2 linked regions of the Homo sapiens genome follow. The protein of the gene in region 1 interacts with the protein of each later gene in a pairwise test. Each region holds a gene or a part of one and is shown on either strand. Other genes may lie near its edges.

Region 1 (7,420 bases):
TGCTGTGAGTCGAGATCGCACCACTGCACTCCAGCCTGGGCAACAGAGCAAGACTCTGTCTCAAAATAAACAACAAAACAAAAATATGGATTTTAGGAATATCATGTCTTTGTCATAAATGGCTAATACTTTTCCCTGTTTATTAAGTTTCTTTCTTAAACTAACTGCCATATAGTTCTCAATTTTGGCCGGACGCAGTGGCTCATGCCTGTAATCTCAGCACTTTGGGAGGCCAAGGCGGGCGGATCACTTGAGGTCAGGAGGTCAAGTCCAGCCTGGCTAACATATAGTGAAACCCCATCTCTACTAAAATATACAAAAATTAGCTGGGCGTGCTGGTGCGTGCCTGTAGTCCCATATACTTGGGAAACCGAGGCAAGAGAATTGCTTGAACCCAGGAGGTGGAGGTTGCCGTGAGCCGAGATCGCGCCACTGCACTCCAGCCTGGGCAACAGAGCGAGAGACTCCATCTCTAAATTAAAAAAAAAAAAACCCTCAATTTTGGGGAGGTCAAATTTATTTACCTTTTCTTTTTTTCTTAATTTCATGTTAACTGTAAAACAATAAAACTCAACACTGGTTTAACACTCCCATTTGTCACTTTTTTAGAAACAGGAATTTTTAAAAAAGCATTTACCTTTGCTGCTTTCTTGTCTCCTTCAGTGCGTACACCTAGAAGCCGTCTAAGCAGGAAATAGGAAATTTCCAATTCTGTGAATATCTCAGGTAAAGCTCCGACTGCACCAAGTACTTGCCCCACCATTCTGTCAGCCCGGCACAAAGTGGGGTCAATTTTTGTTCCAACTCCTATATAAAAATAAGATGTATATAGCTCAATTTTTTATTTCCTAAAACACCTATAAAGTGAATTAGTTGGCCAGGTGCAGTGGCTCACACCTGTAATCCCAGCACTTTGGGAGGCCGAGGCAGGTGGATGCCTGAGCTCAGGAGTTAAAGACCAGCCTGGGCAACACGGTGAAACCCTGTCTCTATTAAAATACAAAAAATTAGCCAGGCGTGGCGGCGTGCACCTGTAGTCTCAGCTACTTGGGAGGCTGAGGCAGGAGAATCACTTGAACCCAGGAGGCAGAGGTTGTAGTGAGCCGAGATCGCACCACTGCACTCCAACCTGGGTGACAGAGTGAGACTCTGTCTCCAAAAAAAAAAAAAGTGAATTAGATACCCCAAAGCCATATAAGCACAGCATATACCTACACACTTTCATACTTTTATTTTTATACTCATATAATAGCTATATAGGTACAAGAAAATACCTGTTTTATCTAGACAAATAGAAATATACACTCATGAGATGACTGGGCAAATGAGAACAGAACGATTCTCTTGATTTAAATTCTAAACAAAGGGTTTAGAAATCTGATTTTCTAGGAATGATGGCTTGGCTGAGAACTTAATGCAGGAGATGGTAAGTATTACTGACCTGGTCTTGAAAACAATAAATTCTAAACAAAGGGCAAATAGAGATAATAAGTGAACTCAAAATGAGTCCGAATATCCTTAACAAAGACCGAAAGAATACAAAATTCAAAATGAGTAGTTTGCAGAATACCTGCATGCCATTTCTCCCCTGAAAGACTGATTGAAAAGATAGTTAAAGACTACATATGGGCCAGGCGCAGTGGCTCACACTTATAATCCCAGCACTTGGGGAGGCCCAAGTTGGAGGATTACCTAAGGTCAGGAGTTCAAGACAAGTCTAGCCAACATGGCAAAACCCAATCTCTACTAAAAATACAATAGCTGGGCATGGTGGCAGACACCTATAATCCCAGCTACTCGAGAGGCTAACGCAGGAGAATCACTTGAACCTGGGAGGCAGAGGTTGCAGTGAGCCGAGATCGTGCCACTGCACTCCAGCCTGGGCGACAGAGTGAGACTCTCAAAAAAAAAAAAAAAAAAAAAAACTACATATGATTCCTGGGATCTACTTCAAAATATTCTAGCTGTGTCTTGAGGGGAGTAGGGGAAAGAAGATATATAGATGGAGCAAGATTGATTGGGAAAACTTTTTTTTGCTGCTGTTGTTGAGACACAGTCTCTGTCGCCCAGGCTGGAGTGCAGTGGTGTGATCTCGGCTCACTGTGACCTGGGATTACAGGCTGGGATTACAGGCATGTGCCACCACACCTGACTAAATTTTTTTTTTTTTTTGTATTTTTAGTAGAGACAGGGTTTTTCGAACTCCTGACCTCAGGTGATCCGTCCACCTCGGCCTCCCGAAGTGCTGGGAATACAGACATGAGCCACCACGCCCAGCCAAGACTGGTAAAACATTAATAATTGCTGAAGCTGAGTGATGGCTCTATGGGGGTTATCATTACAGTATTCTATCCTATGTTTAAAGAGTTCCTTAGGCCAAGTGTGGTGGCTCACGCCTGTAATCCCAGTATTTTGGGAGGCCAAGGAGGGCAGATCACTTAAGACCAGAAGTTCGAGACCAGCCTGGCCAACATGGCGAAACCCCATCTCTACTAAAAATACAAAAATTAGCTGGCTGTGGTGGTATGTGCCTATAGTTCCAGCTACTCGGGAGGCTGAGGCAGGAGAATTAACTGAACCCAGGAGGCAAAGGTTGCAGCGAGCCGAGATAATACTACTGCACTCCAGCCTGGGTGGCAGAATGAGACTCTGCCTCAAAAAAAAAAAAAAAAAAAAAAGAAATTAAAAAAGTTCCTTAAGTTAAATTTTTAAAAAGTTTCCAGATTTCCCTTGTTTACCACACACATGCACACAAAAGATAAAATGATAGATGGAACTACAGGCACACACCACCAAACCCAGCTAATCTTACTATTTTATTGGAGAAATGGCATCTCATGGTTTCCTAGGCTGGTCTCAAACTCCTGGTCTCAAGCAATCTTCCCACCTCAGCTTCCCAAAGCACTGGAATTATGAGCATGAGCCACCATACCCAACCTGGTAAATTCATTTTTTCTTTTCTTTTCTTCTTGTTTTTTTTTTTTTTTTGAGACAGAGTGTCACTCTGTCACCCAGGCTGGAGTGCACTGGTGTGATCTCGGCTCACCCTCCGCCTTCTGGGTTCAAGCGATTCTCATGCCTCAGCCTCCCGAGTAGCCGGGATTACAGGCGTGGGCCACCACACCCAGCTAACTTTTGTATTTTTAGTAGAGACAAGGTTTTACCATGTTGCCCAGGCTGGTCTCAAACTCCTGAGCTCAAGCGATCCACCCACCTCAGCCTCCCAAATTGCTGGGATCACAGGCATGAGACACTGCGCCCAGCCAACCTGGTAAACTCTTTTTCATTTTTTTGTTTTCTTTTATTTCCTTTTTAAAATTTTCAACCAGAGACACAACTTATTGGGTGAAGAATTAACTGTTTCTTTACCAAACATTTTCTTCTTTAATCTAAAGGTACAACACCCCTTCTAATTCTCACTGAATCTTTCATTTTTCTGGGTATTGAGTAATACACTAAGTTGTAAGGGACTAGAAAAGTTTTTAAATCACTTCAGTAATTGCTACACAAAGAAATTTACTTTCTTTTATTTCTACCTCATTGGAAATACGACCTGATATCATTCAACTGACATTTGTAGGTAATTTTCCATTTGCAAAATATACATAAAAGCAACCATGGCCGGGCATGGTGGTTCACGCCTGTAATCCTAGCACTTTGAAAGGCCGAGGCAGGGGGACTGCCTGAGCTCAGGAGTTCAAGACCAGCCTGGGCAACACGGTGAAACCCCGTCTCTACTAAAATACAAAAATCTTAGCTGGGCCTGGCAGCATGTGCCTGTAGTCCCAGCTACTCGGGAGGCTGAGGCATAAGAATTGCTTGAACCTGGGAGGCAGAGGCTGCAGTGAGCCAAGATTGCACCACTGCACTCCAGCCTGGAGGACACAGCGAGACTCCATCTCCCAAAAAAAAAAAAGGCAACCATTATCTAGCACAAAAATCATGTTAACAAAAACATAAGTGTAGGTAAATATCTTACATGATAAGTCATCAAATTTATTTTTTTATATTGCTAAAAAGGAGTTACTCTATATTTGATCAAAATGTATCCTTTGTGTTTAAAAATAATTTTTACAAACCCATGAAACCATCTTATAACCTAAAACAAGAGCTTAACCACATGATTGTTCCCCACCCTACTCTATTATTAAAATACCCAATTAAAAATCTGTAATATGTCCCTTTTGGTAATCCATCCCCCATGAAAAGTACCACAAATAGCCACAAATTAAAAGAGATGAGAAAAAAATCCTTACCAATAAGACCGCCTGGAGCAGCATATTGCAGATCATTATGCTCCGCAAAAAGTGATACAATTTTGGAAAAGATTGGTTTACACATGAGTTTTCCTTCACTATCTTTGGAAACAATACCAGGTCTTACTTCTATCTCCTGGCCCACCTGTAAACATATAATTAGTAATTAGAATTACTGTGTTACGCAAAATTATCATTTACCTATCAAAAGTTCCAACAGGGACTGGGTGCGGTGGCTCACATGTGTAATCCTAGCATTTTGGGAGGCCGAGGCGGGTGGATCACCTGAGGTCAGGAGTTCGAGACCAGCCCAGCCAACATAGTGAAACCCCGTCTCTACTAAAAACACAAAAATTAGCCAGGTGTGGTGGCACGCACCTGTAATCCCTGCTACTCAGGAGGCTGCGGCAGAATTGCTAGAACCTGGGAGGCAGAGGTTGCAGTGAACCGAGATCGCACCACTGCACTCCAGCCTGGGTGACAAAGAGAGACTCTGTCTCAAAAATAAAATAAAATAAAATAATAATAAAGGTCCAACCGGAAGACCATAAAACTGAAAAGGCAATCATTCCTGTATTTCAAAGATCATTATTCTTAAAAAAAAAAAAAAAAAAAGATGTGAACGAGACTGTCAAAACCAGAACCATCCAACTGTTGTTAACTACCCACCACACAAGTCTATTACCACATCAAATGTGCTCCATACTTACAAGTCTATAAATTTTCAAGTCAGACACATTCAAAAGACATAACAGAAAACAAAGAAATATAGCTGGGCGTGGTGGCTTATGCCTGTAATCCCAGCACTTTGGGAGGCTGAGGCAGGCAGATCACCTGAGGTCAGGAGTTAAGAGACCAGCCTGGCCAATATGGCAAAACCCCATCTCTACCAAAAAAATTAGCTGGGCGAGGTTGCGAGTGCCTGTAGCCCCAGCAAGTCGGGAGGCTGTGGCAGGAGAATCATCACCTGAACCCAGGAGGTGGAGGTTGCAGTGAGTCAAGATCATGCCACTGTGCTCAAAAAACAAAACAAAAAAAAAACTATTATCAGAGCATGTAAATTAGTATAGCTACCATGGAGAACAGTATGGAGGTTCCTTGAAAACCTGAAAATACAGCTACCATATGATCCATCAGTTTCACTAGTGGGTATACATTCACCAGAAAGGGAAGCAATATTATCAAAGAGGTATCTGCACTCCCATGTTTATTGTAGCACAGTTCACAATAGCCAAACATGGAATCAACCTAAGTGCCCATGAACAGATGAATGGATAAAGAAAATGCAGTATATAGGCCGGGCAAAGTGGCTCACGCCTATAATCCCAACACTTTGGGAGGCCGAGGCGGGTGGATCACTTGAGGTAAGGAGTTCAAGACCAGCCTGGCCAACATGGTGAAACCCTGTCTTTACTACAAATACAAAAATTAGCTGGGCATGGTGGGGGGTGCTTGTAATCCCAGCTACTTGGGAGGCTGGGGCAGGGAGAATCGCTTGAACCCAGGAGGTGAAGGTTGCAGTGAGCTGAGATCGCTCCAGCTTGGGCGAAACAGCAAGACTCCGCCTCAAGAAAAAAAAAAAAAAGAAAAGAAAAGCAATGGCAGCATATATATATATGCAATGAAGTATTATGCAGCCATAAAAAAAAATTCTGCCATTTGCAGCAGCACATCTAGAATTGGAGGCCATTTTGTTAAGTAAAATAAGCCAGGCACAAAAAGACAAATATCACACATTCTCACTCATCTGTATATGTGGAAGCTAAAAAGGTGGATCTCATGAAGGTAGATTGTGGATTCAGAGGTCTAGAAGGGTGGGAGGAGTGAAGTTTGAAGAGAGAAAAAAAGAATATTAAAAAAGAGAACTCTACATCAAATACCAGAAACCATGGAAAAAATTTTATTTTTCAATTTGGATTGTCCATACTTTTTTTCCTGATTAAGACAAGGATAAAACAAACAAACAAACAACAAAAAAAAAAAACCCAAAATCACAACAACCAAAACCCATTTTACCTTTAATACTCCTTTTAGGATACTACCACCAGCTACACCTCCCTTAAGGTCATCAACTTCACAGCCAGGTTTGTTGACATCAAAAGATCTAATAACTAAAATAAAACAAATTAAAGTCAGTTCTGTTAATCTTAACTTTAGAAGAAATATTATTTTCCATGTTAATGTTTCTAAAATAGTGGCCATTTGAGATTTATACCAAAGGGGTGCCTTTTTAACAAAATCTATTATTATTCCAATGATTAAGCAGTCTTACTTATGATGGAAAAAATGAAAGTAACTTAAGTTTATTAATAAGTGGCATATAGGGTATACCAGTATTATAGAGCATCACGCAGCTATTAACAATGTTAGAGCTATATGTAATGATCTGGAAGGATGACCCTCACATACTGTTAAGAAAAGTTATAAAAATTACACGCATAATATAATCCCACTTCCATAAAGAAAAATAAAATAATCAATGTCTGTATATGGATTTTTTTTTCCCTCTATCATAGAGGCTGGAGTGCAGTGGCACAATCATAGCTCACTGCAGCCTCAAATTCCTGGGCTCAATCTTCCTGCCTCAGCCTACCGAGTAGCTCGGACTACAGGTACACACCACTGCACCCAGCTGTAATATTTTATTTTTTGTAGAAATGGGGTCTTCCCTTAATGCCCAGGATGGTCCTGAACTCCTAGCCTCAAGCAATCCTCTCACCTCAGCGTCAGCCTCCCAAAGTGCTGGGATTACAGGTGAAAGCCACCATGCCCAGCCTGTGTATATGTTTATACACGATGATATGAACAAAGAGAAAAGTGTGGGAATAATGGACACCAAATGTTAACTTTGCTGACTTTAGGGCTAAGGAACTAGAACTTGAAGACAGAGAGATTATGGACATTTTCTTTATAGACCTCTGTAACTCCTGTAAGAACAATTCAGCTTTATAACTATAAAACACTAGGACTACATGACCTGCACTTCGGAGACTATTTCCTACTAAACACCAGAAGCTCGGATGAAAGCCAGAGGAGCTCAAATGTCTGTTTCGAGAAGGCTACTACATCCCCGTGTAGGAACCACAAGCCTAGGTGATCAAATTATACCAGTATCAGTTCTTCGTTAATTGAACAACAAAATCATCTGTAAATGTTTTAGTCAG
Region 2 (8,260 bases), on another chromosome or scaffold:
ACCATGCTTGGCCGACAGTGATCACTTTCTAACAAACTATTAATATATACAGTCACGCATCACTTTGCAACAGAGATATGCTCTGAGAAATGTGTCATTAGGCAATTTCATCATTGTGCAAATATAAGTGTACTTACACAAATGTGGATGGTATAGCCTACTACCCACCTATGCTATATGGTATAGCCTATTGCTCCTAGGCTACGAACCTGTATGGCATGTTACTGTACTGAATACTGTAGACAACTGCAATACAAAGGTAGGTGTTTGTATATCTAAACATACCTAAACACAGGAGAGAAATGGTAAAAATATAATATAAAAGATAAAAAATGGTACACTGGTAAAGGGCACTTACCATGAATGAAACTTGCAGAACTGGAAGTTGCTCTGAGTGAGTGGCGAGTGAACGCAAAGGCCTAGGACACTACTGTACACTACTGTAGACTTTATAAACACTGTACACTTAGGCTACACTAAATTTATAAAATTTTTATTTCTTCAAATTGTTGAATTAGCCTTAGCTTACTATAACTTTGTTACTTTATAAGCTTTTCATTTTTTTTTTTTTTTAGATGGAGTCTCACTCTGTCACCCAGGCTGGAGTAATGGCACCATCTTGGCTAACTGCAACCTAAGCCTCCTGGGTTCAAGTGATTCTCCTGCCTCAGCCTCCCAAGTAGCTGGGATTACAGGTGTCTGCCACCACACCCGGCTAATTTTTGTATTTTTAGTAGAGACGGGGTTTCACCATGTTGGTCAGCCTGGTCTCTAACTCTTGACCTCCTGTAATCCACCCGCCTCGGCCTCCCAAAGTGCTGGGATTATAGGGGTGAGCCACTGTGTCCAGCCAGCTTTTCAATTTTTTAAAACTTTTTGACTCTTGTAGTAGCACATAGCTTAAAATGCATTGTACAGCTGTACAAAAATATTTTTTCTTTATATCCTTATTCTATAAGCTATCTTCTTAAAAATTTTTTAACTTTTTAAACTTTCTTGTTAAAAATTAAGACACAAACACCCATTAGCCTAGGCCTACACAGTGTCCAGGATCATTGGTGCTGGCTTTCACCTCCACATCTGGCCCCACTGGAAGATCTTCAGGGACAATAACACACACAGAGCTATCACATTCTATGATAACAATGCCTTCTTCTGGAATACCTCCTGAAGGACCTGAGGCTGTTTTACAGTTAACTTTTTTTAAATAAATAGGCATATGCTCCAAAGTAATGATAAAAAGTATAGTATAGTAGGCACATGAACCAGTAACATATTTATTATCATTACCAAGTATTATGTACTGTACATAATTTTATGTTATACTTTTATATGACTGGCAGCAGAGTAGGTTTGTTTACAGCAGCATCACTGCAAACACATGAGTAATGGTATTGTGCTACAGTGTTATATTGGCTAGAAAGTCACTAGGTGACAGGAATTTTTCAGCTCCATTATAATCTTACAGCAGGGGTCCTCAACCCCTGGGCCACGTACCGGTACTGGTACAGTACTGGTTCCTGGTTAGGAACCAGGCCACACAGCAGGAAGTGAGCAGCAGGTGAGTGAGCATTACCGCCTGAGCTCCACCTTCTATCAGATTAGTGGTGGCATTACAGCCTTACAGGAGTGTGAACCCTCTTCTGAACTGTGCATGCGAGGGATATAGGTTGCTTGCTCCTTATAGGAATCTAATGCCTCATGATTTGAGGGACAACAGTTTCATCCTGAAACCATAACCCTCCCATCCCCCAGTCCCTGGAAAAATTGTCTTCCACAAAACCACTCCCTGGTGCCAAAAAGGCTGGGGACCACTGTCTTACAGGACCACTGTCATGTATGTATATAGTCCATACATATATGGCACATGACTATAATTTAGTTATATATACTGTCCACCCACCCCCCTCAACATAAACTCCATGAAAACAAGGACTTATTTTTGTCTGTTTTTGATATTCATAGTAGGTGCTCAAAAATATGCTGATAAAATGGTTCAGTCATTATCGAAAACACTATGACAATCAAAGATTAAAAACAGACATTACCACATGTATATATAAAAAACTGAAAGCAGGGACTCAGATAGTTGTATACCCATGTTTGTAGCAGTGTCACTTGCAATTGCCAAAAGGTAGAAGCAGCCCAAGTGTCCAATGATGAATAAATTGATAAACAAAATATTTATCCATATATGACATACTTATCATTCGGCCTTAAAAAAGGAGGAAATTCCAATACATGCTAACATGGATGAATCTTGAGGACGTTATGCTAAGTTAAATCAGGGTCACAAAAGCACAAACAACATATGATTCTGCTTATATGAAGTATTTAGAATAGTCAAATTCAGAGACAGAAAGTAGAATGGTAGATGCCATAGGCCGGGGGAAAGGGGGGTACAGAGTTATTGTTTGATAGGTACTGGGTTTCTGTTTTGCAAGAAGAAGAGTTCTCTGGCTGGATGGTGGTGACGGTACCATAACAATGTGAATGTACTTCATGCCACTGAACTGTACACTTATATATGGTTTAGATGGTAAATTCTATGTTGTGTATTTTACCACAATTAAATATACATGTGTGTATACATAGTTGGTCCTCCTTATCCACAGGTTCTGCATCCTCAGATTCAATCAGCCTCAGATAAAAAATACAGTTAGGCCTACTACAGTTGTGTCTGTACTGAACACGTACAGTACAGATTTTTTTCTCATTATTCCCTAAACAATAACGTGTAACAATGATTTACACAGCATTTACATTATATTAGGTATTACAAATAATCTAGAGATGATTTAATGTATAAAGAAGGATGTAGGGACTTGAGCATCTGTGGATTCTGGTATCCATGGGGGGTCTTGAAACCAACCCCTCCTGGATACGAACTGTATATAGAATAAATGAGCTACTACTACTAATTTGGGGATTTAAAACTAGAAGAGAATAGGCTGGGCATGGTGGCTTACGCCTGTAATCCCAGCACTTTGGGAGGCTGAGGTCGGCAAATCACGAGGTCAGGAGATCTACCATGGTGGCTAACATGGTGAAACCCTGTCTCTGCTAAAAATACAAAAAATCAGCCGGGCGTGGTGGCGCGTCTGTAGTCCCAGCTACTCGGGAGGCTGAGGCAGGAGAATCGCTTGAACTCGGGAGGCGGAGTTTGCAGTGAGCCGAGACCGTGCCACTGCACTCCAGCCTGGGTGACAGAGCGAGACTCCGTCTCAAAAAAACAAAACAAAACAACAACAACAACAAAAACTAGAAGAAAATAATATATGAGACAAGAATAACACAGAAATTGGTGGATATTTTGGAGTTCAAGTATTTTAAAGTCTTAAGGTTGAGTTTTGTTAAGCATGCATATTAAAAAAGGATAATAGCAGAAACCAACCTAGGGGAGAAAAAGGGATAAGGTGAATTTGCACAATAAAAAAAGATATATGTGCAACTATTATATGTCAATCAAAAATGTTTAAGGCGTAATAGAAAATAAAACATTTTTTATGAGCAATCATGATAAATGCCACTGAACTATACTCACCTATTAAAATAACAGTCAAACAAGATAAACGGATGTAAGCCCAGCAATATGCTCTTTACAAGACACAGATCTGAAACATAAAGACACAAGGGGGTTAGAAAATGAAATTCTTAAGAAATACAATAAAACTTGAAAAGCAATATTATCAGACAAAAGAGAACCCGGACTAAAAGGCATTCACCAGGATAAAGAGGTATGTTTCTTAAGGTGGTAGACTGGAATTTTAGTCCAATTCCTCACACCCTCTAATAGATTATTATTCATACTCTTTGCGAGGTAACTTTGCTCTCCAACTGTGGGCATAATTGATTTTAGGCTTAGCCATGTGACTTGCTCTGGTTGAGGCAATCTCTCTTGCGCTCTGGTGACCCATCAGGAGCAGAGCATGCCCTGGCAACAAATGTCCTTTTGGCCTGAGACCCTGAAAGAACACATGCGGCGCAGATCTTAACTCGTCACGCAGCCTATCCACTCAGCCAAGCCCCACCTAGATCAGCTGAACACAGTCAATGCGCAAGCCTGTGAACAGGAGAGTAAGGACTTGCTGTTGTATGGCATTGAGTTCAGGGGTGGTTTTTAGACATAATTATTATCATGGCAATAGCTAACTAACATACATAAAAGCAGCAAGTCATAAGATAATAATGAACCTGAAAAGTTCGCCAAGGAATAGTGGAAAATTACAAAGGGCCAAGGGCTACTAGGGTAAAAAAGACAGCAAAGAAGACTACAGAGGAGTGGCCAACAAGGAGGGAGGATCAGTAGAAAACAAATAAGTGTTTTTCAAGCCGTTACCAACTGTGCCAAATGCTACAGAAAAGCCAGCTCAAGACAAGAACTACTAGACATATTACAATCACGCACACTTCGCCACGTTCACACTCGCTACAGCCTTAATCATAATCACACACATATCACACATTTCATCATAATCCCGCGCAACCAAATATCACAATCACCCCATCAGATTATTCGTGCCGTCACACTCACACACACAACCACACACCCACACTAACTCCCATCACAGTTTTTTGTCCCATCAACTGCAACCACTCACCATTAGCGTACCCTGAGCACTCCCCACTGCCGCTACTCGGGACACTCTGGGCCTTAGAGGATCCGTGTCCCGTCAACCGCGAGTCCCTTGCTCGCCCCCTGCTGCGGGGACTCGGCAGCGTCACCTGCCGGAAACACCCGAATGTTCATCCCGCGCGCAGTTTCTGAGATGCTGGGTGAAGGCGACCCGCAGATAGGTCTGTGACAGACGCCTAAAGCGCCGAACCATCCCTCCGCGCCAGCGACGTTTCCGAGGACAACACCTCCCAGCAGGCCCCGCGGCCCCACTCAACTTCCGGCCAGAACACATCTGCTTTCCTGTGTGAGGGTGAGGCTTGGGCCGGGTTCCCCGGGAGGCTCATCTCCATTGCGCAGCGCTACGGCGACCCGCAACTCCGAGGCTCGGCTGGATGTTGAGAGTTGAGGGAGCAGCCGTTTCGGGTGGGCCCAGGCGAGGAGCTGACAGGAATCGGCGTGGGTCCCGCTCTGGACTACATTTCCCAGAGGGCCTGGTGGCCTGCCACTTTTCTCGCAGGAATTCGAACGTTTCGTCACTCCTGGCGGGACCCTTAGATCTGGGAGGTGAGATATTTTGGTCCCCAGGAGAACTGGCTCAGGTCTGCAAGTTCCCATCCGGGATGACTGGAAAGGGCTTAGGTGAGGATACCGAAGACCGATGGGGAGCTGGCGCCTTGGGCCCCTGCGGGCGGAGCGGCCTGAAAGGTGGAGGTTGTGTTTGGGAGGCCGAGGCAGGAGGATCACGAGGTCAAGAGATCGAGACCATCCTGGCCAACATGGTGAAACCCCATCTCTACTAAAAATACAAAAATTAGCTAGGCATGGTGGCGCGCGCCTGTAATCCCAGCTACTCGCAGGCTGAGGCAGGAGAATCACTTGAACCCGGGAGGCGGAGGTTGCAGTGAGCCGAGATCGCACCACTGCACTCCAGCCTGGCGACAGGGCAAGACTCTGTCCCCACCCCACCCCACCCCCCCAAAAAAAGAGGGGAGGTTGTGAAATTGTCTGGGAGATAATAACACTGCGGCTTATGTGCGGATATGGGATACCTGTCACTGTGGGGGTTGTGGCTGTGTGTTCCCGTGGTGATGTGTGATTGTGACTCTGCGACAGTGTGGGGTGCCTACGATTGTGCAGCTGTAATTGTGTGTTTCCTATGGTGTGTATGTGATTGTAACTGTGTTGCCGTGTGTGGCTCCTTGTGGGCAGGTGAGACGTGCATGTCGCCTTAAGTGTGACTGTCCCTAAATGTATGTGGCATTCTGTGTATGAGTATGGGGTCCTGTCAACTATGCGATTGTGACTCCAGAACTCTGTCTCTAGGAAACCTCTCTGAGGTCTGGTCAGATTCCAACCCTGGACAGCAGTGAACACAACCTTTCCCCTGAGCCACTGGAATTGGACAGAATGCCCCATTCTCCTCTGATCTCCATTCCTCATGTGTGGTGGGTAATGGGGCTGGGGAAGAACTCTTACTTGACTAATCTGGGTACCAAGAAAAACCTGGTGTCTCACAGTTACTCTTCCCTCTCCCAATTTTACCTTTCTCCAGGTGTCACCCAGAAGAGGAGGAAAGAATGCATGATGAACTTCTACAAGCAGTATCCAAGGTGTGTTGGGGTTTCCTCTTTTTCTTCTGAAAATTCTTGCTTAAAGGAATGTCATTTAATTATAGGTCCCTATAATTTTCCCATCACAGAAAAGGATGGTTGCTCCACTTATGCTTGCTGAATTTTCTTCTCAAATATTTATTCTGATTTAAAAATAAAAGGATGATTAATTTAGAGATCTCAAAAACACAGCATTACCAAGAAAAAATAAAATTTAGCCACTCAGATAACTAGGGTTAATATTTTAATGTATTTTCATTATTTGTCAAAAACCAAATTTTATTTCATTTACCATTTGATGTTCTACATTTTTGCAAAAAGAAGTGTCAGAAATATTCTCCCATGTCATCAAATGGTCTTGGGAAATACATTTTTGATGTTTGCAAAAACTATGATATACAAATCAGACATGCCAGACTTTTAAATCCTCATTTGAATATATATCTGTACTTATACCCGCCCACCCCCACAGGTTTGAATTTGGGTTTCCGTGATTAATAATAAAATTGAACATATTCCATATGTTTATTGGTTTTTAGTCATCTTTTGTGACATGTCAGTTCAAATCTTTACTCATTTTTCTCTTGGAATAGCTCTTATTGATTCGTATGAGTTATTTATGTAATCTGGATCTCAGTCCTTTATTGATTGTTTTCCTACTATTTGGACTATTTCATCATTTCCTGTAAGATGATTTTATGATAAGTTCTAATTTTTAAAAAGCTGAGTTTATCAATATTTTTTCTTTATGGTTAGTGCTTTTTGTATCTTTTTAAATAAATCCTTCCCTGTCCCAAGGTCATGCAGATACTCTCCTATATTTATGCTTAAAGCCATAAGTTTCACTTTCATGTTTAGATATTTTATATAGTTGCAACTGGTTTTTGTATATGTTATGAGGTAAGAGTCAGATTCCCCCCTCCTTATTAATACCCAGTTTATCAATACCATATATTGGAAGGTCTATTGTGTTCTCATTGGTCTTCAAATATACCTAGTGTCTATATGTGCATGGGTATGTTTATGAACTCTTTATTCTCTTCCACTGATTTTTTATATTCCTGTGCCAGTATCATACAGTCTTGATTAGCTCGTCTCCCTTGATGGTAATCTGCCTTGTCTTCCTCTGACTGTTTTGTTTTTGGCTTTCTGTAATTTTAGTGTAAGATATATAAATGTGTTTTATTTGTCTGCTTGGGATTTGTAGAGTTTTAAAATTTATGGATGGATATCTATTATTAGTTCAGGAAAATCTTCAGTCATTATACCTTCAAAAAGCCCCCGTATCATTCTCTCCCCCTTTCCTTCTCAGGTTCTAACTAAACATATGTTAGAATTTCTTCTTCTTTTCTGTGTCTTATCTCTTTTTGGTTTTTAGAGTTGATACTTATAGCTGAAATCAAAGCAAACAAAAGAACCTTGCCTCATCTCAGGAGGGGGCAGTGGGCATGGCAGGCAATTACAGAGTTTTTGGATTCTTCCTCCAAGTAATAATAAAAATATCTTTATTCAGTTTGTGTTTCAACACTTCTAATCTTGGGGAACTCACTAAATTGTAAGGTTATCCATTCACCAGGTAATCATTTTATCTGAAAATTAGAGGATACATACTAGGATAGAGGACTCAGAATAGTGACAATGTTTTCTCAAGGTGTAAATTTGGAACTCTGAGTGGGCCTACTCTCAATTTTTAAATTGTATGTGTTTGGTACAGATGCAGAGAAAATCAGGATAAGAATAAGTCTAACTAAGTATTTTGTGTAAGGCCTTTCTATCTGAATTTCTTTTAAAGAGGACTGAGTCTTCCCTCTCCTGTGCCAAAGCCCAAATAGAATATCTGCTTCCCCTCTTGCATCAGTCTCTAGTTACACTTCTCATTTCTATAGAGAAGATTGTTGCCCAGTATTAACGGGAATAACTAGGGACATGTAGTATACTGTAGTAGACAATAAATTTTTATTTTTTTTGGGACAGAGTTTCACTCTTGTTTCCCAGGCTGGAGCACAATGGCATGATCTCGGCTCACCACAAC

Evidence for each region. Proteins that work in one complex are often made in the same cells at the same time.
Region 2: the proteins of EIF2S3 (region 1) and ZNF829 interact in binary tests that used the Homo sapiens proteins (3 or more experiments, as listed by UniProt).

Annotation. Positions count from the first base shown.
Region 1 is NC_000023.11:24,064,945-24,072,364, reverse strand, and holds part of EIF2S3 (eukaryotic translation initiation factor 2 subunit 3), read right to left. Parts: intron 6,368-7,420; coding exon 6,273-6,367; intron 4,402-6,272; coding exon 4,257-4,401; intron 808-4,256; coding exon 638-807; intron 1-637. UniProt on the Homo sapiens protein: Member of the eIF2 complex that functions in the early steps of protein synthesis by forming a ternary complex with GTP and initiator tRNA.
Region 2 is NC_000019.10:36,912,933-36,921,192, reverse strand, and holds the start of ZNF829 (zinc finger protein 829), read left to right. Parts: upstream 1-4,901; 5' UTR 4,902-5,182; exon of another isoform or gene 5,183-5,238; coding exon of another isoform or gene 5,239-5,397; intron 5,398-5,941; coding exon of another isoform or gene 5,942-6,025; coding exon 6,026-6,063; intron 6,064-6,170; coding exon 6,171-6,228; intron 6,229-8,260. UniProt on the Homo sapiens protein: May be involved in transcriptional regulation.